Regions from separate parts of the Homo sapiens genome. Here all the other regions are linked to region 1. The links come from fine-mapping of genetic effects on gene expression. A gene starts in region 1. Each other region holds a variant in brackets. All regions are shown on one strand. Distances are between the middles of the regions.

Evidence for each region. PIP is the estimated chance that this variant, and not a neighbour inherited with it, causes the effect.
Region 2: its variant is fine-mapped to the expression of MAP3K8 in whole blood (TOPMed, PIP above 0.99). The same link has a PIP of 0.9 or more in neutrophils.
Region 3: its variant is fine-mapped to the expression of MAP3K8 in monocytes (Quach 2016, PIP 0.95).

The regions. Positions count from the first base shown.
Region 1 is chr10:30,430,586-30,438,766 of GRCh38, reverse strand. MAP3K8 (mitogen-activated protein kinase kinase kinase 8) reads right to left here and starts at 4,583. Exons shown (of 9, transcript NM_005204.4): 1 at 4,389-4,583; 2 at 1,361-1,591. RefSeq lists enhancers at 1,091-1,290, 2,904-2,993, 2,546-3,081, 3,082-3,619, 3,744-3,793 and 4 more and a silencer at 4,624-4,863.
Region 2 is chr10:30,454,673-30,462,853 of GRCh38, reverse strand. It overlaps MAP3K8 (mitogen-activated protein kinase kinase kinase 8), which reads right to left. Exons shown (of 9, transcript NM_005204.4): 7 at 4,618-4,770; 8 at 3,353-3,599; 9 at 1,021-2,148. The coding sequence ends at 2,018. Among named protein-coding and RNA genes, the nearest start is that of MAP3K8, 25 kb to the right of the region's middle. The variant A/G (reference allele first, on the strand shown) is at 3,285.
Region 3 is chr10:30,491,012-30,499,192 of GRCh38, reverse strand. No RefSeq gene overlaps it. Among named protein-coding and RNA genes, the nearest start is that of MAP3K8, 61 kb to the right of the region's middle. The variant T/C (reference allele first, on the strand shown) is at 4,797.

The DNA.
Region 1 (8,181 bases):
AGTTGACAGTGCAGAGTTGAAAGGGACCTAAGATAACCTTTAGTCCAGCTCACTTTGCAGAGGGAAACCTGAGATCCAGAGAGCTTACTCTTACTCACAGAGTCAGTGGTATCAGCTACAGGCACTGAAAACAAACTTTCACTAAACATACACACGAATCAAGAGCAGCTCAGAAATCTTTGAAGACCTTAGGCTACCGGCTCTTTAGGGCTTCCAACCTTACACAACCCAGCTATTCCCCCGAAGTGGCACCCTCCCTGCAAGAATCGCTATGGCTTTTTTATGCCTCTGGTGACTTTAAAGAAAAATAACCTCTTCACTAAATGCAGGAGCTAACTTGGCAAATAAAACTCAGGCCCTGAAAGCCAGAAGCTGGAAAAATGGATTTCAATCTACACAAATTTGATGGCAATAGGTCAAGTTTCAGGAATGATTCTTATGCAAATGAGTTAAACAGCTAATTGGAAGGATGACAGGAAACCTTGTTCTCCCAGTGATGAGTATGAGAAAGATGATGATACATTTAACCTATGATTCAGCTGTCCTCCCTTAGGACCAGAATTCTTTAATAGTGCAAAGCAAACATCTTGAGGGTCCCAGAAGATTAATATCTAAATAAATGGCCTTCTAGAAGCTGTGAGTAGTAGAAAGAAGCCAGGAAAGTCAAATTTATCATAAGCAAGTCCAAGTGACTATATTAACCAAAATTGCATTTCAGCTCTTATATACAAATCAGCTGCCACACTTGGAGATCTGTAGATGAGAAAAAGAAAGTAAAGCAAGGGTAAAAACTGACGTTGTTACTCAGGATTTTAGAACAACTCTGTTCTGAAGGAGAAAAGACAAAAGGCCCTAAGAGATCTAAGAGAATTTCAAGGCACATTGGTTTACTTAAATCACCGATTGCACTCCCAAAAGCATAGCCTCTTTCTGAAAGGTATTTCAAGTTCTGAGAAGCACAAGCCTTTAACACACAGGACACTCAGGGCTAAAGCCACGCACGTCTGATCAATCTGGAGCTTCATTTCAAAGCTCCAGGAAATGCTCCACTGCAGAGCCACCTGCACGCATGACCCAGCCATCTGCCTCTCAGTGAATTTCATTTGACAAAAGAACCATGCAATTTAGTGTCATCATTCACTTACTTGATGGTCATTTTCTGACGTATGAATTGTGTCTGAGGAAAGCAGTTTAGCATCCTGCAATCCAACATTCCTCTGGTCTCAGACTGCTTGGAGTCAAATCTCATTGCCTCCCCCCACACTCCCATTTACTGCTTGCATGACGTTGAGCAAGTAACGTAACCTCTCTCGACCTCAATTTTCCCCATCTGTAAAATGGAAGTAATAACAGCACCTACCTCATGAGGTGGTCGTGAGGATTAACAGAGTTCAAGCTCATAAAGTGCTCAGTGCAGTGTCAGGGGCATGGTAAATAAGCTGTGTCATTTTTAGCTGCTTTGTATGCATGAGTGAGAAAAGTACTGAGTCAGACTCCTGGCTTTGCAGATACTGCGTTAGCTTCCTTTCTTATCTGCAAACAAGATGTGGCTACCTATTCCCCTGGCTTCTTCGCGGTAAGAAGATTGCATCTAAAACAAGACATAAAGAGAGAGAAAAAAAAGGCAGAAACCTATGAAATGCTTTCATGGCTGTTATCACCACCGTGAAATCTAGAGTGAGGGGGCAGCTTCCCCTCCTGAGATCTTGTACATCTTCGAGGGAGATTGTGATTCAGGTTCTTGGAGTCTGCTGAGTTAGGAGAGCAACTTCTTAGATTAATGGAGGAACATTTGACTTCGGTTTTACTGAGCCGTTTAGTTGCAGTTTCTGCTTGTCGAATTTACTGGAAACACAGAGGTTAAAAAAAAAACAGCCTAATTTAGGGCCTCAGGGGTTGAAAGGATCCAAGTCTCCTGGACTTATTTATCAAACAGATGATTTGACAGAAAAAAAAAAAGTTCTCAGTACTAACATGACTCAAGAAAGAAAGAGGAAAAAAGTCCACACAGTTCAAATTCACTCTGCTGATCTGGGAAGACAAATTTTAGAGGATTTTTTTTTTTTTTATAGTAGTAGTGGTATTCTTTTTATTCTTTATTCTTTTATTTTTTTAATTGGGGGGTTTTCCTGTGAGGACTGGAGATTCTAAAAGACAAATCCTAAAAGAGCTGTAAGACAAGATGTTAGTTTTTAAACCCTGCAGAAAAGTCTCAGGCATTTATATGTAAAACCCAAGAGCTTGAACACACACAACCACACCCCTAAACTGTGAGTTGCCTGGAAAGGGGAGAGGGAGGGAAGCAGGACCCGGGAGGTGGAGGAGTGTCTGACGCTGAGACTTTTCTCAGTGCCTGCAGTAATTCCTTAGCAACACAGGGCCCCTGTCACGCAAATCTACGTTCCCCAGAAACCCTGCTGACCAGTTCGCCTGCTAACTGCGCCTGCAAAAAGCCTCAGCACTTTCCAGCCTTAATTAAGCACACAATATGCTAATGGTTTCTGAGTTATTCATGATCTGTGCCCATCTAGAGAAAGTTCAGATTGTGAAGGTATTCTAGTTTGGCAATAAAGACGTTTAGTATAAGATGATTTTTCCCTTGACACAGTTTACAATAAAAGTCCTCATAAAATTCCTACTTCCTAACCAAACAGAAAATTATGCCAGCTTTTGGAATTGGAGAGATGTGCAAATACAGTCAAAATTAGTTACACTGAATTATTTCAGAAATCAGCAATAAAATCACGAGGAAATTCTCTTCCTAAACATTAACATAATACTCTTGGCTGCCTCCATATACAGAAACAAAATGTGAGTGTTTCCTGGCAAGTGTGAATGAAAATGGCCAGCATAACAGCATATGCTTCTGCCTAACAAAGAATGACTATTACTTGTGTTATTTCTCATTTAAAATATTTTTTTAGGCCGGGCACAGTGGCTCATGCCTGTAATCTCAGCACTTTGGGAGGCCAAGGAGGGTGCATCACCTGAGGTCAGGAGTTCAAGACCAGCCTGGCCAACATGGTGAAACCCTGTCTCTACAAAAATTAGCCGGGCGTGGCGGCGGGCGCCTGTAATCCCAGCTACTCGGGAGGCTGAGGCAAGAGAATCGCTTGAACCCGGGAGGTGGAGGTTGCAGTGAGCCGAGATCGCGCCATTGCGCTCCAGCCTGGGCGACAAGAGTGAAACCCCCTCTCAAAAAAAATTTAAAAATTATATATACATATATACATATGTGTGCCAAAATAGTACATTCTCCCTCAGGGCACATTTCTGACTATGTTTTTGCTCTCAAAAAGCCCCGGATTATGCGTTTCAGGCGTATGGAAGGAAGGACCGACACTCTGCTTCAAAACCTCTACATGCCTCAACGTTCCCATTTGCTTTACACGACAAAGTCCTCATGGGCCGTATGCCAGACGTCCTGCACACAAACCTCAATCCGTCGCAGAGAGCTGGGGGCGTCAGCTGGAAGTGGATTACACTCTCCTTGGCACAAACGACTCAGGCCACAGGTATGTAAAGCAACTGCAAGAGCCTTTCTGTCCCTGTTTTTTATCAAGAGCAGCCTTTAATCTTGTCTTCCCAAAAGTGAAATAGACAAGCATCGCAACGTTTCTCTCTTACAGGCAGCCGGTGGCCTTCCCCTGTTAACTATGGAGACAATCCCTAGGCGTCCTTCTCCGCCCAGAGCTAGAAAAATTTCAGAGTCCTGATCATGCACTATCGCTCGAAAACAACTTCCGTGAAAATAACTTTTTTTTTCTCCTAGTATTCTTTCTTAGACCAAAAGCCCAGCCTTCGTGTTCTGCTATGACCTCTTTAGTCATGGGATAGAGTCCGGGTTACAAACTTGAATTTAGTTCCAGCCATTCACAAGTCTCTGGGCTCCGCCAACCCACACTCCCACTCCTTTCCTCCTGGTTCTCTAAGTCAAGGGAGCCTAAAAGGCTTATAAATTATCAAAGCACCCAGCATTTGGGAGGATCGGGTCCTCCAGCCTCCGAGCTGCACTCACCGGGTCTCGGGCAGGGAGAGTGCGGCCGTCCAGGCGGCGTCGGCAGCGGGAGGCGCAGTGACAGCGGGTCCCCGCTTCCCCGCGCACTGCCCAGACCAGCACTGCCCTGGCGCTGCGGATACGGGAAGGAGGAGGAAGGGGGAGGAGTCGCGAGTCTGCACCCCGTGAGACCCTTGCGCAAGGTGCTTTCCAGCTGTGCCTGGTGCAGCCGGCGACCCGCGAGCGCAGCTGTGGGCACGCCCCCACCTCTTCCCACGCCAGAGTTTTCCCCTCTGCTGGGGGCACCCTCCATTTCTGCATGGGAATCCCCGGGGCACCCAGGCGGGACGCGACCCGAAAGACACGCCGGAGACCCCCAACCCTGGATTACCTGCGGCCTTGGCGCTCCCACGCCGGCCGAGCGCTCCAGCCGCGGCCCCCCGAAGGTTCGGTGCGATGCTGGCTGCAGGCCTGTGGGAGCCGAGCACGCCGGGCCACTGGGATCCGGCGGCGGCAGCGGCAGAAGCAGGAACCAGGGCGCCGGACCCCAGAGCGTGGCGCGCAGTCCAGAGCGGAGCGGACGAGTGAGACCCGCGTCGCCCGCACGCTCAGACCGCCCTGCTCTGCCCCTGACTCACGGCGTCTGAGCCTGCCCAGGGGCGGCGCAGCGGACGCCAGCCACCGCCTCCCCGACTTTTCCATTTCCCCTTTCTCTCCGTAAACAGAAAGAGACTGCCCGGTTGCAGGGTAAGCCAGAGCCCCCGCGCTGGGAAATTCCGCGTCTCCCCCCCACCCGCCACCCCGCCGCCCCTCATTTGCCCTCTGGGCGCCCGGGCGGAGCTGGAGGCGGGACTAGGGAGGAGCAGAGCGGCGCGCAGGGAGGAGCGCGGGACGTGAGCTGCGGCCCGAATCGAGAGCCTGGGACGGGGACGAGTTTTCCCCCGGGCCTGGTGACCCAAGGCGTCTTAGTGGCGGAGTTGCAAGAGGTGGTTGTGCCCTTCCCGGTCCCCAGGGAAGGTCGTATATCTTAGTGTACTCGCGCCCTCGGCGCTTCTCTGGAGTCCCAGGGTCCGGCGGGAGGGCACGCTCCCGGGGGGCGGCGGGGAGGGCAGTCACCAGACCTTTTTCCGCGCGCCCCACGCTCTGGGGTGGGGACAGAGGCGCCGTGTGCCCTCCCAGCAGTGCTGCGGGAAGCCGGGGAAGCTTCGGGGCTTCTTGGAACCGCGACTGTGGGTCCGATTGCTAGTAGCACGGCCCCGCCTCGCCCAGATTTCGCTTCAAATTCACACACAAAGAGGGCAGTGACCCGTGGTGCGCACGCACACATTCCAACTTAGAGATTTCCAAGAGGCTGCGGCAGGGTGGGCCCGGAACCTGGTTGTTGGGCGCTCGGCTGGGAGCCTGTGCACTCCGCCAGCAGAACCTGGTTTTCTTCTCTGCAGTCTTTATTAAAATTGGTTATTTTGCGGCACCGCCTCATTAGGAAGCGTACTTGTACTATCTCCCCGCTCCCGCCTACCGCTAACCCTCAGTCCTAGCTGCTCATCTGGGGTTTTCCTTCTAGAGTGTCAAGCTTTTACTCCAGGTGTAACCGGAAGAGAGTTCTAGAGAAAAGCGCCACTCTCCCGAAATCCACTCTGCGGGACATTCCCAATGCCCCGCCACCCCCTCCCCCTACATTTCCCACGTATCAAGCACCCACTAGGAACCAGGCATTCGGCTAGAGCGCGGAGAGCTAGGAGCCATGTAAGGTCGACATCCTCTCTCTCTCTCTCTCTCTCTCTCTCTCTCCCCCCCCACCTACGGCCCAGGAGGTGGGGTGTCCCAGGCACAACCCAGATTCAAACGCGGTCACACTCCAAGTCCACGCCCTATTCTTCCCAGTGCCCAGGTCCGTGCTCCCTCTGCAGTTTCTAGATTGCCTCCGCGCGGTTGCGCACGCCTGTAATCCCAGCGCTTTGGAGGCCGAGGCGGGAGGATCACTTGAGGTCAGGAGTTGGAGACCAGCCTGGGCAACATAGCTACCCCGTCTCTACAAAAAATCTAAAAATTAGCCAGGCATGGTGGCTCACGCGTGTCATCCTAGCTCCTCGGAAGCTGAGGTAGGGGGATCCCTTGAGCCCAGCAGTTCGAGTCTGCCGTGAGCTATGATTGCGCCATGGCACTCCAGCCTGGGCGACAGAGCGAGGCCTTGTCTCAAATTTAAAAAATAAAATAAAACAAAAAAATTTTTGAGACTGAGTTTCGTTCTTGTTGCCCAGGCTGGGGTGCAATGGAGCGATCTGGGCTCACCACAACCTCCGCCTCCCTGGTTCAAGCGATTCTCCTGCCTCAGCCTCCCGAGTAGCTGGGATTACAGGCATGCGCCACCACGCCCGGCTAATTTTGTATTTTTAGTAGAGATGGGGTTTCTCCATGTTGGTCAGGCTGGTCTCAAACTCCCGATATCAGGTGATTCGTCCGCCTCAGCCTCCCAAAGGGCTGGGATTACAGGCGTGAGCCACCGCGGCCAACCAAAAATAAAATTTAAAAAAAAAATTTGCCTTGTACCTTCTCTAGAGCCCTCCACATTTCTGCTATGGAAAATGAATTACAATACAACCCGAGGATGTATTGAGAGAATTGCTGGAGGAGATAGGTTAGTTGAGGTGACAAGCCAGGGGCTTTTTGCAGGACCTTAACTCGCAGACAACAAGCCCAGGTAGCAAATCCAACGTCGAGGGCCGATTGACTGAATGGGCACTGTCATCCGTCAAGTTATTTTAAATACGAGAGCGATTTAATTTATATTCATTCACCTCATGAAGCAGGGCTTTGCCATTCCCTCCAAATATCCAGGCAGTCCCTTGCACCTAGAGGAGAACCCCTTCCTGAACCCTCCGCCTTTCTGATCTTGGAGGGAGGGAAGGCAGCTTCCACCAACCCGGCAGCACTGACCCGGCAGAAGCAGCCTGGGCCGGGGTTGGGGAGGAGAAGCCCCGCTCGCTTGCGCGCCGGATGGGTGGAATTTGGCACTGGCTCAAGCGGGTTATCCCAGTCTCAGCTGAAGCCGAAGTTATCAGTACACTTTTGGCCTTTTCGCTGGAAACCAGGTTAGCACAGGTTGTTACCTCTGATTGTAACGTGAGAAACAGAGACGTCTCTTTCTCTACTGCCGTGTTTAGACAACAAAGGATGATCTTTACACGAGTTTTAAAAATAGAACCATGGAACCACTCCCCTCCCCACCCGCCTTGTGTGAGCTCATTAAAACCACACCTAATCTTCTGGGAACTGCATTATTAGCCTTACTTCCTACACAGAAGTCTCCCAAATATAGCTGCATTTTAGGGAGCTGGTGAAATGGCTGGTCTAGCAGGGTTCTCTCTTGCTTCTGGCTTAATCCAGAGCAGGTTCATCTGTTGGGGTAAATTAGAAGGTTTTACTTGAAAACGTATGTAGAGTTTTTAACAAGGAGGCCAAAAGGGAGAGAGCAACTGAAAAGAAAGAAAAAGTCTGTGGACTCCCTGTATGTATGTATGTATGTATGTATGTATGTATGTATGTATGTATGATGTATTTGAGACAGGTTCTGGATCTGTCGCCCTGGCTGGACTGCAGTGGGGCGATCTCAGCTCACTGCAACCTCCACCTCCCTGGCTCAAGTGATCCTCCCACCTCAGCCTCCCAGATAGCTGGAACTACAGGCGCATGCCACCACACCCGGCTAATTTTTGTATTTTGGGTAGCGTTAGAGACGGGGTTTTGCCATGTTGCCCAGGCTGGTCTCAAATTTCTGAGCTCAAGCGATCTGCCCGCCTCAGCCTCCCAAAGTACTGGGATTACAGGCGTGAGCCACCTTGCCTAGACTCCTTGCATTTTTCTGGTCTGGCTTTTTGTTTTTTATGCAGGCTTACAAAAACAATCCTGCTCTTCTAGGGGCGAGCTAAGTGAGTTTTAAACCTACCAATGAGAAGTCCCTTGAGCCACAGTGCACACAACCATAGGGGGTTATTCTGGAAGTGATCCTAAAGCACATTACGAAACAGCTCTCTAGAAGCTGTTTGAAGCAAGCAAAATGCATTTGCAAATAAGGCTGTAACCGATTGCAGTTTACCTGAAGAAGCTTGCTCCATCTCATAGGTTGGGACATTAATGGGTTTGTAATTTGTAGTTTGGAAATCCAAATTATTTTACTCACAGAA
Region 2 (8,181 bases), 24 kb before region 1:
GTCAGTCTGCCTCTGCCCTTACCAGAGGGGCAGAAAAGGAAATTGTTTCCTCTGCAGTGTTGATCTCTCACTTACAAGCAGCAACGTACGAGGGAGAACATGTGTACTGGAGCCAGAAAGGACTGGGTTTAAATACCAGCTGTTTCTTCACTTGCTTTGCGGTCTTGAGGATAACGTTACTTACCCTCACTATGCCTCAATTTCCTTCTCTGAGAAAAAAGAGGTAGCAATGCATATTTCATGTGTGTTTACATGGATTACAAGGGATGGCATGTTTTACACAACACATGTAAAAGTGTTTAATACTATTTGCTATGTAGATGACAGACTTCCATTCAACAGTTTTCACTAGAGTTGATGTATGTGAGTTAAAGCCACCTTCTACAATGGCTAGTTATTAGCTTGCCACATAACAATGGGCAAAGAGTATGCAAGCGTGTATTCAAGGATAGTATAAATATATAAAAACAGGGTGCAAAATAGAACCACATAACCCTAAACCAGTGGCACACAATTATTATTTTATTTTTAGCAGGGACAAGGCCTCCCTCTGTTATCCAGGCTGGAGTGTAGTGTGGCATGATCTTGGCTCACTGCAACCTTCGCCTCCCAGGCTTAAGTGATCCTCACATCTCAGCCACCTGAGTAGCTGGGACTACAGGCATGCACCATCACACCTGGCAAATTTTTGTATTTTTTGTAGAGATGGGATTTCATCATGTTGGCCAGGCTGGTCTTGAACTCTTGGGCTCAACCAGTTTTCCCGCTTCAGCATCCCAAAGTGCTGGGATTACAGGCACAACCACAATTGTTTTTTCTACCTCAATGTACCGGGGGATGCAAACCATTCCAGCTGACAATAGCTTCATACAAGAGCAATAGAAAAGGAGTGTATTAATACAATTTGCAAAGCTCCTGGTATTTTTTGCCTTCTTATGATACACATTTCCTTCCAATCTATAACTCAACTCCTATAGCCCATCCTCAGTCCCAGCTGAGAATCACAGGCTTCACAACAACTAAGGCAAAATACTGAATTTATTCAGTTGATTTGACCAACCACATTGGACAAAAGTATTGGGTTTTATTTGCATAATGTAAAAACATACTTTACATAAGACTACTCACATACTTTACAATGTTACAAATATATATATGTATGAAAGATTCATGAAGGCATTTGATATAAAACATACACAGTATGCTATTTTAATATACAAATGCTTAAAAGAAAATTTAGTCATAAGAATTACAAAATCATCAATAATTTACAAAAGTTTTCATTTTTCTTAAAGGTCACATTCTCATCCTTTGGGATGTACAAAAATTATGTGGTTTACACAGTTTTATCCACATTCAAAACATCACGTTTTGAATGTCTTCAGCATAGCATGTACAGTATAAAATGTTTCCATAGGAACACAAAAGAAACTGTCACTAGTGGCCTGCTGTCAGATGGCTTCTAATTCATCAGTTAGCCATTTTTAGGACACTAGTCCAGCTTATTGCTACAATCTTCAAGTTGTTCTAGTCACCCAAATTATAATGAATTCAATGTATACCAGAATTTACCAATAAAGGCTCAAAGAGTTATATAATATACACCAATATACACAAAACAGCTATTCTGAGTAAAATGAATATTCCATACTTAAATAAGAACCAAGAATAGTAATTTTAGGCTACTCTATTATCCTTGTGATTGGTATTTTTAAAATTTTGAGCAAAGTGCACAGTGAATGAAACAGTCAGCAGACACGATCCTTCTGTGAACTCTCAAATTCCTGCCTTAGAATCACGTCACCTGAGAAATGAGAACCTTGAGACCTGGTGCATATCAAATAGCTTCACATGTCAAACACACAGGGCCGCTTGGAGGCACATTCACGGGTCACAGGAGGTCACACTGCTCCTTCGAAAATGGCACCATTCACTGTACAGGGCCCCTGTGTAGAGGCAGCAGAACCAGCCTCCAGGAGATCAATGCTGTCTTAATTTAGAGCAAACATGGCATCCTTCAGCCATATTCAAGCGTTGGTGGTCCCCGAACAAGATTGAAGTAGCCAGCCAGAGCGCCGAGGTCGATGTAGAGAGAGCGTTGCCTCTTGAGCATCTCAGATTCCTCGGTGCTTCCTGTGCACGAAGAATCTGAAAAGGAAAACATTACAAAGTAAGTAACAAGAAAACGTGTCAAATGATAAATACCTGTTCCTTCTGCAGTGAAATAAATCTTTGGGGCCTAATAAAACAGTGTCTTAAGCGTGAAAGATGGGTCTTTGAACACTATGGCTAAGTTCACATAATATGACATAGAACAAAAAGTTCAAACAGGAGTCAATGGAGACAAGAAATTAGTTAGAAATCCTGGCATATTTTTCCAACAGCCAGATTGCTCTCTTTAAATACACAAAAGTTAGACAAGCAGCAAAGAAATATAAACAAGCGCACCAGGCTTGACATCTCGGTTTGGACCTAAATGGATTAAGAATGCCACAGACTTTTAATAAAAATGGAAATCCCTCTTTATGCATATTCAATGCTCCTGGAAAGCATACTGACTTTCCTAAGTGGGAAAAATTTACAACTGGCAAGATTTTAAGCCAAGGAAGATGGAAATGCAAGTTGACTTCAAACTGAGTATTTTATCTGTGCAGGGCAGTGCCATGATGTTCCCCCACCAAGGACTGGGGTGGCTTAATATAAATGAGTTAGGCTGGGCATGGTTGCTCACGCCTGTAATCCCCACACTTTGGGAGGCCAAGGCAGGTGGATTGCCTGAGGTCAGGAGTTCGAGACCAGCCTGGCCAACACGGTGAAACCCCATCTCTACTAAAAATACAAAAATTAGCCAGACGTGGTGGTGGGCACCTGTAATCCCAGCTACTCAGGAGGCTGAGGCATGAGAATCACTTGAAACCGGGAGGCAGAGGTTGCAGTGACCCAAGATCATGCCACTGCACTCCAGCCTCGGCAACAGAGCAAGACTCCATCTCAAAAAAAAAGAAAAAAAAAGTGAGTTAAGAAGAACCAACTGCAAAGCTGTCATGCTCAATCTGTTTTCAAAGACAAAAGTTGTAAAAAAGCAAGTTGCAAAAAAGCAAGTCAGAAGCATTTTCCAGTGACTGTGCTACCTACACTTGCACTGAAAATCTGTTATAATTTGGTGCTAAATTAGCCAATTTAAAAAAAAAAACATGCTTCTGCTAATCTTGCTGAAATTTCTCAAGCAAGGTATGGTACTCAAGAAGTCATTTCCTTTTTTTCCAAGTGCTTTCATGAACTAC[A/G]TCAGAGGTTTGATGTGGACAGAAAGAGAAGGGAAGTAAGTGTGCGGCACACAGCAGGGTGTCCCTACCAGCAATGTTCTCAGGAAGTTCCAGCTCCTTCCTACTCAGCAGCCTCTTGCGCTCCAAGAGGGCAGAGTCCAGACTCTGACAGCGTGGCTGATCCTCTCTGGGCGGGTTCAGGGCCTCATGTTTTAGTAGGTCTGCGGCTCTTGGGCGGTGATTGGGGTTTCTCTCCAGGGAAGCTTCTATCAGCTCTCTCATCCCTGGACTGCAGTCATCTGCAATGTCTTCCAGTGGAGGTGCTTGCTTGTGGATCTATCAACAAACCAGCTCTCTTAGCATCAAAGGTATGGTGATACACCCTCAACAGCAAAAGCATGCTAGTACCAGGACCTAGAAAGTAATCCGTTTTCCACCACATGCCCTGCAACGAATGCAGTTCAGCCCTTAAGCAAGCAAGCTTCCCTTTAATTTCTTTTTTCTTTTCCTTTTGAGACAGGGTCTTTGCTCTGTCATCCAGGCTGGAGTACAGTGGCACCAACACAACTCACCGTAGCCTCGAACTCCTGGGCTCAAGTGATCCTCTCACCTCAGCCTCCCATGCAACTGGGACCACAGGGCATACACCACCACACCTAGCTAATTTTTTTAATTTTTTGTAGCGATGGGGTCTTGCTTTGTTGCCCAGGCTGGTCTTGAATTTCTGGGCTCAAGAGATCCTTTTGTTTTGGCTTTCTAAAGTGCTGAGATTACAGGCGTGAGCCACCGTGCTTGGCCCACTTTAATTTCTAAAGGATACCAGGTTAAACCCATCTTCTGATTTAATGTTACAAAAGATAAGTGATAGGTTTGAATGTCAGTGACAGCTTCAAATCAGTGTCCCAAAAGTCACTGTGCAGTAACAGGGAAGTGTCTGCTCCTGAATTTATCAACAGTAAAATGGGAATTGCATGTTCCACTACAAGCCACACTGGTGTGAACATTAATAATAAAAAATGTTTTAACTGTTCAAAGAACACATACAACTTCCTTTGCTGAAATATTTATGCTACTCTGATGCTACTAAGTAGTGTTGCATTATTACACATACAATGGAATAGCATAAATTATGCCCAATGCACATTTTAGTAAGCTCCCACTAAAATAGCTATGTTTTCTTTGCAAGAATGGAGCTTGCTTCTACATGGGAAGAACTTGTAGCTACCTGTCATTTCACCATTGCCTCATTCAGATGGGGGTGGTATAGAAGGCAGAGCAGTCCCTCCCAAGCCTGCGGGATGCATAACTCAACGCCCCCCCCCGCCGCCCCCAGCCCTGGTTGAACCCCACTTACTATGTACAGGTAGGAGGGATAGGCTGAGCGAGGGTAGCGCTTCACCCAGGGTGGGGTGCCCGTCTGCATGTGGATGAGCGTGGCCCCCAGGCTGTAGATGTCTGCTTTGGTTGAATGGCCCCTGCACAGGATGACCTCTGGGCTCATGTAAATCTGAAAAAGAAGTGGGAAACATTCAGCTTCATTCCCCTCCTTTGTGTGGGTTTCCATTTCCCTAATCCAGTTCTGGAAATTGGCTCATTTGCCTTAAACTAGGAGAATAATGCAGGCATTCCCCAGGAACCATGCAGCAATTGCTGGAGGTGTCCCTGCAGTCTGATGAAGAACACCTGGCCGGGCGCGGTGGCTCACACCTATAATCCCAGCTGAGGTGGGCGGATCAGGAGTTCAAAACCAGCCTGGTCTCTACTAAAAATACAAAAATCAGCTGGGCATGGTGATGGGCACCTGTAATCCCATCTACTTGGGAGGCTGAGGCAAGGAGAATCGCTTGAGCTCGGAAGGCGGAGGCTGCTGTGAGCCGAGATCGCACCACTGCACTCCAGCCTGGGAGACAGAGCGAGACTCAGTCTCAAAAAACAAAACAAAACAAAACAAAACACCACCTTTTTCTGGTTGATCTGGTGGCAAAGAGCCTAGAACCAGGAATCTATCAGGGACTCCCACTCATCAAAGTTCTGCAGTACACTGATCAGGTGTAGCTAAGTTTTCAACTAAAACGCCAATTCCTTTTATATTTAAATGAACTACAAACAGACTTCTTTATCTGTTTGTCATTACACTGCTAACCTTCTAAATATCTGCAATGATAAAAGGTGATAGAAGTCTATAGGGTATTAACACAAATTTCTTGAAAGGGAAAAACTTAAAAAATAAAGTGTAATATTGTAGAAGTGATTCTAAAGAGTCATTTTTACAAACTATCTGTTATTTTTACCTACTATGTAGCCCAGTGACTAAATATTAAATGCAGCCATATTAACATTGTATAAGTTATATTTGGTCTCATGAGTCCATGCTGAATAAACAGGGCTGGTTTTATAAATAGTTTCTCTAACGAGCATTTATTTCTAAACTTAAGAAAGAAACAAAGAGAGGTGGGGCATGGTGGCTCATGTCTATAATCTCAGCACTTTGGCTTTTTTTTTTTTTCGAGATGGGGTCTCCCTCTGTCACCCAGGCTGGAATGCAATGGTGCGATCTCGGTTCACTGCAACCTCTGCCTCCCGGGTTCAAGCTATTCTCCTGCTTCGGCCTCCCAACTAGCTGGGATTACAGGCATGTGCTACCACGCCTGGCTAATTTTTGTATTTTTAGTAGAGATGGGGTTTCACCATGTTGGCCAGGCTGGTCTCGAACTCCTGACCTCGTGATCCACCTGCCTCGGCCTCCCAAAGTGTGGGGATTACAGGCGTGAGCCACTGAATCTCAGCACTTTGGAAGGCCGAGGCAGGAAGATTGCTTGAGCCCAGGAGTTTGAGACTAGTCTGGACAAGATGGAGACCCCCCATCTTTACAAATTAATTAGTTACCTAATTTAATTAAACATTTTTTTAAAAAGGAACAGAGCAAACACTGGTGACCAGTGATTTGTATTCATGGCTGGTGCAGACATATAGTAGTTAATATCCTGATTATCAGTATTTCGCTTGAAACAGCTTGTACACTGTCTGCCATGTGAATAAGAGAATGGAGGTCAGTGTTTCCGGAACACATTTCAGGGTAAGTAATTAGAGAACTAGCTTACAAAAACCAGAGAAACTGCCCAGTCTCCCCACCCTAACCCTGCTCAACTCCTTCCTGCAAGCCACTTCCGGGCCAGCTTCCTTTTGCTCTCAGCAAACAGGTGAAACTGAGCTCCCGTTCTCAAGCTTTCCCTGCAGCAGAGCCAGAGGACTTTCCAGAAGGACTTTGCTACTAAATATATCACAAACTTAAAAAATTAATGCACAACATTGTACCTATAGTCAACAATAGTGTATTGTATACTTAAAAATGTGTTGAGAGGGTAGAGTTCATGCTAAGTGTTCTTACCACAATCAAATAAAAAAGAAAAAGAAATGCAATGGGTATTATTAACTGTCCATAGAGGATGCCTATCTTCTCTCCTGTACCCCCTCCTCCCTGCCAATAAAGCAAGGATTGGGCGGAGTGCCCACTGCTGGTGTAGCCCACAGGGGTTGTGCAGAGGTGGCTCTGCAGGTTCTATGTGACTGCACGCCTAGGCAGCCTGGGGGGATGGAACATCTGTAAGCCTGGTGGCCTGGGTGCTGCCACTCAGGTAGAAACCCCAGAGCTTCCTGGCTCGGAGCTCTTGTTCCTCAAGCTCTACCAACTACCAGTTAGATCAGGGAGCAGCAGGGCATAATGTTCGAGCACTCTGGCTGATTAGAAGGCATGAAACAGCCCTGGTGGGACCAACACAGGGCTCTCTGAGAGTTCTGCACCCTCGGGGCAGGGCACTGGAGCAAGAGAAAACCTTGATGTCAGCGATCGAACCCTTCACCTTTCAATATGTTTATTAGAAAGGGAAAGAGACCGTGTGTGTGCGTATATGTGCATGTGATGACTATATGTTAACTTACAAAGGTAAAACCAAGCAGACTTAGAAGGATTTTTCAAAAAGGACCAAGTTCTAAAAGTAATTCTGATTTGTTATTCGCATTCACTATGTATTCTCTCTCTGTACCTTGCAACTCAAAAACAGTCTATTCTGTATATGCTGGATTAACCCTGGATGTGTATTACATGGTTACAATAGAATGCTCTGAATACCAATGCTTAGAGAGAGCAATCAAACAGGGGTAACCAGGGTTTGCATTTGGGAGCTATACTGCAGAAATCAGAAATTGTCTATGACTGTGCAGTAGCCACATGATCAAATTCTAACATCAGCCAGTCTGCACAGTTGACTAATTAGATCTCCTGGCTCTTTAAGTAGGAAGGGTAAAAGCAAGCTTGTTGAAAGGTTTCACTGGTCACTTCACAACTTTGTTCATTATCAAACTTCAACTCGTGTGTACTAGGCAGATATTAAATGCAGGCTGATTAGAAGAGAGTTTATATTTATAAACACCAAGGCACAGTTTTGCACTTCACAAAAAGCAATTTGCATTTGCCAAAAAAAACCTGATCCAAATACTACTCAGGAGTAAAATATGTTATTATCTCATATCCATGCATTCCGCTAGACAGCCCCAGAAAGAACACTTCTTTCTCCAATGTTGCAAAATGTTCAACTTCACCACATTGCCAGGAAGAGAAAAGTATTTTCCATCTTTAATACCATAAATAGTTTGTTTTTCAAACTGGTTCCAGGAAAAAGGGTGGTGGAATATTACATATCTGAACTCCTGACTAATGCCAAATATGCTGAAACATTTTCCAAAGAAAACATGTCGTAAGCATTAAGTCTTATTAGACCTCACACTTTGGTAAAGTATTCTTAAGATCTGGGGACTAAGCATTCTTAAAAAAAAAAAAAAAGTACAGCTTCCCTTCTGAATATTGTTCTGCTCAAAGACAACCGTCAAGAATCCTCGCTCGAGCATTTTCAATAATAAC
Region 3 (8,181 bases), 60 kb before region 1:
CTTTTCCTTTGGGTAGATACCCAGTTGTGGGATTGCTGGATCGAATGGTGGTTCTACTTTTAGTTCTTTAAGGAATCTACATACTGTGTTCCATAGTGGTTGTACTAATTTACATTTTCATGGCTGAATACTCTTAATTCCATTTTACAGGTGAGGAATCTAAGATTCAAGGGGTTAAAATCACACTGTAGTAAGCCTTGGATCTGACTTTGTCCAATTCCAAAGTTTGTGACTCTTTGTTCTATATCAAACTGACTTCCAATTGCCTCATTTCCTTCAAATCCATCCAGAGTTCTGTTTTTCAAGAATTCTGTACTTGTGCATCAGAGTGTCCTAGACAAGGGGGTAGCTTGGCCTATTGCTCTCTGGGCACGCAATGATAGCATCGCACCAAAGTTGCTTGGATGACAGTGTTTGTCTCACATTCTCTGGCCAAATGGGCCTCCATGGGAGCATTTTGTTAAATTTTTAGGACAAATCCTCTAGGCTGAAAGCTTTATGGTGTCCCTATTGCTTATCAATCTATCTTAAACTTCTTATATCTCATTTTCAAAAATACCTATAACTTGAATTCATCCATCCTCATCCTCCCATTCTGCACTATAATGTAATAAGCTTTTCTTCAGTTTCTTTTGAGCCATATTGTAGTAGAAATAGGGCTGGGGCCAGGCACAGTGGCTCACACCTGTCATCTCAATACTTTGGGAGGCCAAGGCATGTGAACTGCTTGAGGCCAGGAGTTTGAGACTAGCCTGGGGAACAGAGTGAGACCCCATCTCTACAAAAAGAAAGAAAATAAGTAATAGGGCTGAGCCAGCTATCAGAAGCACCCATGCTCTTGCTCTGTTTTTGACTCTTAGTGGCCCTGGGTCTTTTAGGCCATCAGCTTACCTTCTTGAAAGACTGTCTCTACAGCTGTGAATTAACAGCCTTCTACTAAATCCTCTGAGAAGTCTCTTTCTGCTTTGAAATTCAGTGACTCTTTTACCTCATAGCATATTCTCAGTTCAGTGTTCAGGGTTTTACAGCCACAAGACTCGACAAACAGCGCTAAACTATTATAATTAGTTCAAATTGCTATTAGTTCTAAATAGCTCATTAAAAGTGCAGCAGTTTAGAATTAGCATCGTTTTTTTCAGATTAAGACCTCTCATTTCTCCAAAGTCTTAAGTGTTAATACTGTAGTGTTTTGAGATTGGCAGGGAAAGCAAGGGAAGGCAGGGAAGGAAGTGGTTAGGGTAAGGCGCTTGGAGTACATTCAAACAGCTCAACAGTGGCCAGTGCAGGTTGGGGAAATTTCTCTCTCTGGCCCTGCAAACAGAACTGCACGCTAGAGTGATTCCCCCTGCATACTCACTCCAATGGTGTCTTATTGTGCCCACTGGCTAGAACCCAGTTGTGGTCTTGGATTGACCAAATGATTTATATCAGGTGGCCAGAGAGCTGAGGTCTCACGCCCTGTTTTTTCCTTTTTCTTTTTTGAGAGGGAGTCTTGCTCTGTTGCCCAGGCTGGAGTGCAGTGGCGCAATCTCGGCTCACTGCAACCTTCACCTCCTGGGTTCAAGCGATTCTCCTGCCTCAACCTCCTGAGTAGCTGGGATTACAGGCACCTGCCACCATGCCCGGCTAATTTTTGTCTTTTAGTAGAGATGGGGTTTCACTATGTAGGTCAAGCTGGTCTCGAACTCCTGATCTCAAATGATCCCACCACCTCAGCCTGCCAAAGTGCTGGGATTACAGGTGTGAACCTCTGTGCCCGGCCACACCCCCTTTTCTCTATTTGAAATGGAATCTTAGCTTTTCAAGCAGTGAAACTTTGAACAAACTGTGGAACAAATCCAGAAGCTCATCTTATAAACTTACAACTTTCAAATATGCAAACAAATCAGTCTCTCCAAGCAAGAGTGTGATGTGCTTGCATTCTTAGTATAGCAGAACTTGGAGCATCTTCCTCTACGCAGAGTCCAGGGCTGCATTATTTCAGGGACCTTTTATGTACTTTAGCTAATCGAGCAAAACTCTTCCCAAGGTTTGCCAATGTCTTTGTCTGTTTGGGTTGCAATAACAAGATACTACAGATCTGGCAGCTTATAAACAACAAGCATTTATTTCTCACAGTTTTGGAGGCTGGGAGGTCTAAGATCAAGGTGCCAGTAGATTCAGTGTCTGGTGAGGGCCCATTTCCTTGTTTATAGACATCCAGTCTTCTCTGTTAGGGTTCCACACTCACAACTTAATCACCTCCCAAAGGCCCCATCTTCAAATACCACTACATTGGGGATTCAGTTTCAACATGTGAACCGCTCATTGGGTGGGTGAGGAGGGCATAAACATTCCATCTTTAGCAACCCACGTTCAATATTTTATACTCTGGGAGAATTAGAGAATGTAGACCAGTGAGGATGATGGAGAAAAGGGGAATCCACAGAACTCTGGATAGCACAGAGTGCAGTTCTGTTTGCAGAGCACAGAGCCAGCCAAGTCCCGGACCACTGTGGGAGCCAGTCACCCTCTAGGCATCTGGAAGCTGCTTCTAACTGATCTATATGAAGGCTGGCAGAAGTCTGAGATGCAAAAAGCTGACAGCAACATCCCCTTTGCCCTGGACCAAACTTACAGACAGGTGGAGCATACAGTCACCTACACAGTGTGCTTTGAGGGGCTTGGGAGTCTTGCATTCTTCCTAGAGAATGCTTTTCCCTACAATGCCTGAAATTTTGGCATCCACCATTCATTCCCCCTAGTCAGGCATTGCCTTCACTCCAGTTTTCATTCAAATTATACATATTCTTGAGAAATATATCACACTCCCTCCCTCCCTGGCTACTTTACTATAAGTCAAGTAAGTTGTACCAAGAAACAGGACAAGAAAGTGAGAATGGAGGCTGGGCGCAGTGGCTCATGTCTTTGGGTGGCCAAGGCAGGTGGACCACGAGGTCAGGAGTTCGAGATCAGCCTGGCCAACATGGTGAAACCCTGTCTCTACTAAAGATACAAAAAATTAGCTGGGTGTGGTGGCAGGTGCCTGTAATCCCAGCTACTCTGGAGGCTGGGGCAGGAGAATCACTTGAACCCAGGAGGCGGAGGTTGCAGTGAGCCAAGATCAGGCCATTGCACTCCAGCCTGGGTGATAGGGCGAGACTCCATCTAAAAAAAAAAAAAAGTAAGAATGGAGATCAGATAGGGGTTGGGGTAGGTGGTGTCTCATGTCTTAACCGGGGAAAAACCTTGTTCTCTATCATAAATTAGCCCGGGACCAGCTCCATCCCTATGACACACACTTTACTCCCTCCAAAAGGGAAAATCTGAGATCATAGGTTTGTTTTCTTGAGTCATTGAAGTATCTTCCGAAGAGGGCCTGGATTTGGGGGTGAAAAAAACTATGTCAAAGGAAAGAGAGCAAACGAGAAAAACAGTGTATAGTACTTTGCCTGTCACTTCACAGGTATTTGATAAATAAACATTCCCTTACTTCCTTTCTAGTGCTTCGATGTCTCTACTGTATTAATTTCTCCTCACTTAATTCCATTCTCTAAAAGTGTAGATTTCATGCCTGAAATGATCAGAAATTCCCAGACATTCATTAGAAATCCATCTTCAAGAAGGGACTTTTGTCATGAATATTAGCAGGTTCCTATACCTGTTCAACATAGCCTTGGCTGGTTCCAGCATAGAGTTTTATGGCAGGCGGGAGATCAAGATAGTCAGCAAAACAGTGAGGTCAAAAAAACACTCACATTGGCTGGGCACAGTGGCTCACACCTGTGATCCCAGCACTTTGGGAGGCCAAGGCAGGCAGATTTCTTGAGGTCAGGAGTTGGAGACCAGCAGCAATTCTCCTGCCTCAGCCTGCCAAGTAGCTGGGCCTACAGGTGCACGCCATCATGCCAGGCTAATTTTTGTATTTTTAGTAGAGACAGGATTTCACCATATTGGTCAGACTGGTCTCTAACTCCTGACCTCATGATCCGATGGCCTCGGCCTCCCAAAGTGCTGGGATTACAGGCACGAGCCACGGCGCCGGGCCTATTTATTTATGTGTTTATTTGTTTATCTATTTGAGATGGGCTCACTCTGTCACCCAGGCTGGAGTGCAGTGGTACAACCATAGCTCACTGCAGCCTCAACCTCTTGGGTTCAAGCAATCCTCCCACCTCAGCTTCCCAAGTAGCTAAGACTACAGATGTGAGCCACCATACTCGGCCTACTTTTTGGCTTTAAATTACTTTGACACATGTTGAGTGAACGTGCTGTCTTCACTAATCCCATCAAACAAAGAAGTTCTCACCAACTGATTTCGTTCAAATTCCCATGACACAAGAAACTATAATTTTCATTCTTTTCCCATGTTGTGTCTTGAGTTTTCCAGCCCTGCAGCCTGGGCCTTTAGCCTTCATGGTACATACACAGTCCCATTTTCAGTTCCTTTCTCTCACCACTTCCTGGGGTCTCTGTTTTTTCAATTCTTGGCTTCACTTTTTCTGTCCTTTCTACATGTTTCTGCTTCGGTGCCACTTCCTGTATTTCCATGTTTTACTCTTGCTTTCCTCCCTTTATTTTCTCAGATATTCATTGATATATCAATTCGTTGACTATATATCATGTGCTTGGCACAGTAATAAGTGCAGGGGAGCCAGAAATGGATGGCACAGCCTTTCCTTAAGGGACTCATCATTATGGGTGACAGAAGAAGAAACTATCTTGCTCCCTTGACCCAGACCTTGCTGGCCCAAATCCATTTGTCATCATCCCTGCAGAGCTCTGGTCCCTGGCAGTGACACACCCTGACATGACTG[T/C]CTGCAGCGAGTGACTCAAGCCCTGGATTCTGCCCAGTCTGGTTCTGTCTCCATGACCCACTCTGTGTCGCCCTCTGTGACACTAGCCTCCTCCAAGGTCATCCTTGCTGTGCTGGGGAACACATGTCCTTGTGGTTCTGAGCTCACCAGTGAGTCCACCCATTCTGTCCTCAGCAGTTTTCTTGTGGCTTCTCATTTTTTTCCACACCCTTTGTCTGTCCCTGATAACTTCCTCTTTTTTCCCATCAACACTGGACAGTAGTTTCATTTTGTTCTCTTTCTTCCTAGAGGTGTCCCTTCCCTCCTCCCCTCCGCTCCCTGCTCCCTGGGGCTTCCTGCACTCATCGGAGCAGAAGTCACCATTCCTCTTCCGCATAGGAACCTCAAGACCCAATTCTCCCTTCTATGTGACACATCAAGTTTTCTGTCCACTAGGGGACCACAGAATTTACCATTCAAACCAGATACTTCTGAGCGTGAAAGGGGGTGCTATTAATAATTACACCAACATAGTAGGTGTAAACCACGACTGTCCCAAATGGGATCTGATGGCCATCCCACTGTTTGCAGACGTATGACCTACTAGACCACTGACATCTCATACACTTTTCTTTTGGGAGATGCTTTTATGACCTAATCCAGCAGAATTGCAGAGCTATTCCTGATTGCGTGTCACACCAGACGGCCTCTTGAGTCATATGTATTGCATGTCTCTGACTGTCCCCTAGATCAGCTAAAGCCCTCCTCCGAATGACAAGCCCTCTAAATGAGCAGTCAAACCTGCAATCATATTCATGGTCATAGTTACTGAAGTTGCAGTTTAGACAGCAGCTACCTTTCCCCCCAGCCCCCTGCCCAGCTGTCTCCAATGCCTCCCTTACCCAAATATAAACCTCTGCTGTGGTCAAGGAAATGGCAGCATCACTACTGTGCCCAGCGTTCATGGTAGTGTTTACCAAAGATCAAAGGAACTGATCAAAGGAACTGATCAAAGCCCCGATCAAAGCCCCAAATTTCCAGCTTAATCGAGTGTCTTCCTTTTAGGGCTCCTGCTGTGACCTATGGCAATACTCACCAGGATACTTCCAAAGCCAAGAGCAAGCACTCATGGGCCACAAATACCCAGATCCTCACTAGCCCCCTTCTGCTATAGGGAGCATGCCTCTCTTCCTCTGCCAGCTAGATTATTTTTGGCAAAAGCTCACACTGTGATTTCACCAGCCTGGGTATATTGATTTGATGATAAGAGACAGAGCCCCAGCACAAGTGAAATTAGCCCAGAAGGGGAATTCATTGACTCACGGGTCCAAGAAAATTGTTTTGGGTTTTATTGTTTTTTGGGGGTTTTTTTGAGACAGAGTCTAGCTCTGTCGCCCAGGCTGGAGTGCAGTGGCATGATCTTGGCTCACTGCAACCTCCACCTCCCAGATTCAAGCAATTCTCCTGCCTCAGCCTCCTGCGTAGCTGGGACTACAGGCATGCACCACCATGCCCAGCTTATTTTTTGTATTTTCAGTAGAGACAGGGCTTCACCAGGCTGTCCAGGCTGGTCTCGATCTCCTGACCTCGTGATCCTCCTGCCTTGGCCTCCCAAAGTGCTGGGATTATAGGCATGAGCCACTGCACCCGGCCTGAGATTTTGTTGTTGTTGTCATTTGTTTGTTTGTTTTGAGACAGAGTCTTAACTCATCTCCCAGGCTGGAGTGCATTCGCATGATCATGGCTCATTGCAGCCTCAACCTCCTGGGCTCAAGCGATCCTCCCATTTCAGCTACTTGAGTAGCTGGGACCACAAGGATGTGTGACTCCATGCCCAGCTAATTTTTTTATTGTTCATAGAGATGGGGTCTCACTATGTTGCCCAGGCTTTTTTTTATTGAGCAAGAAAATTGTTGATGAGGGAGACAGGGATGCTGCTTAGCCTGAGAAAAGACCAGAACCAGAGATCTGAGGCCCATCCAGACTCCGTCTGCATCTTTTGCCCTGTTTCTGGTCATCAGCCTAAGTCTCACTCCTGAATGAACAGCATGGCAGGAAATGTGGTTCCTGAGCTCTGAAGTTTTGCACATTAGTGTCCTCTGTGTGTGTGTGAGTGTGTGTGTGTGTGAGAGTGTGTGTCTGCACGCACACGCACATGAGTGCAGCCTAGGGTATATTTCCATCATTTCCTAGGTGTGAATTGGGGGCATGACAACCAGGAGTCTTTAGGTCACACTTGGCTAGAAGGATACAGCAGCTCCTGATGTATATCCTGTCTGGATCATGGATGAGATGCAGTGTTTGGATATAGGAGAGAGGTCTCTAAACTGTCCAATTAGGAAGCTCTCCACAGGAAGCAGGTTTATGGGTGTCATATGCACACTGGTGGTGCTATTGGTTTTTCAGCTCAGATTCTTCTGTCAGTTACTGTTGATGCCTGGGAAAGGAAGAACTTCTTATTTTGCTTTATTAATGTGCTTGGTGAATGTCTCGTGCAACTTTGTGCATTTGGGACAGAGATACCTGACTTCATAGCATTGGGTCTCCAGCCGGGATCTGACTCCCCATACAGACCTAAGCTCATCAGTCAGACCCTGAATCAGAAGTACAGGGGAAGTTTCTAGAAGAGTGGAGTTGCTGGATCGAGTTCCCCAAATCCTTTAACAGTGAGTTTCCTGGGCCCCCTGAACCACCTACGTAAGTTAGGGAAACCCATCCAGGACCCTCATCTTTTCCATCCCGTAGCCATCCTCATTCTCCTGCCTGGCATGCGGCAGCTGTCAGTAAACACTCCAGCTCTCTTTTTGTTATTGTTATTATTGTTGTTATTTTAAGATAGTCCTTACAACTTGTCATTACATAAGTGCCCCAGCCTAGCATCAAACAAGCCAGAAACTGCCCCTGACATTCATCTCCACCCAGTTTCTTCCTGCACAGCAAACAACTCATTTCCACTCCCTCGCCTGTTTCTCCAGCTCTTCCCTGGGCTGGGCTGTGTCCCTTGCTTTCTGGGTTAGTCATATGCGTGTCAACTTTCAGTTGAGTTTCGCCACATGAGGAGATTTCTTCATCTCCATTCAACCCCCAAGTTTCCTTCACCTTTGACACCATTCTTTCTGACACCTCCAACATGTTTTTTCAGACAAATTCTGATTCTCTCTTCTACCAGGCTGCAAGCATCCTTCTCTAAGTTTCTCTTGGGGTGTTTTCTGGAGCCTTGCTGCTCATGTGCCCTTTGCTCCATACAACCCATCCTCCACGCACACCCTGCGGCCATCCCCACTCAATTTCCTTGGAACCCCCTTTCTACTCCTCTTTCATTCATTTCTTCTTTTTTTTTTTCGAGACGGAGTGTCTCCCTGTCACCCAGGCTGGAGTGCAGTGGCTTGATCTTGGCTCACTGCAA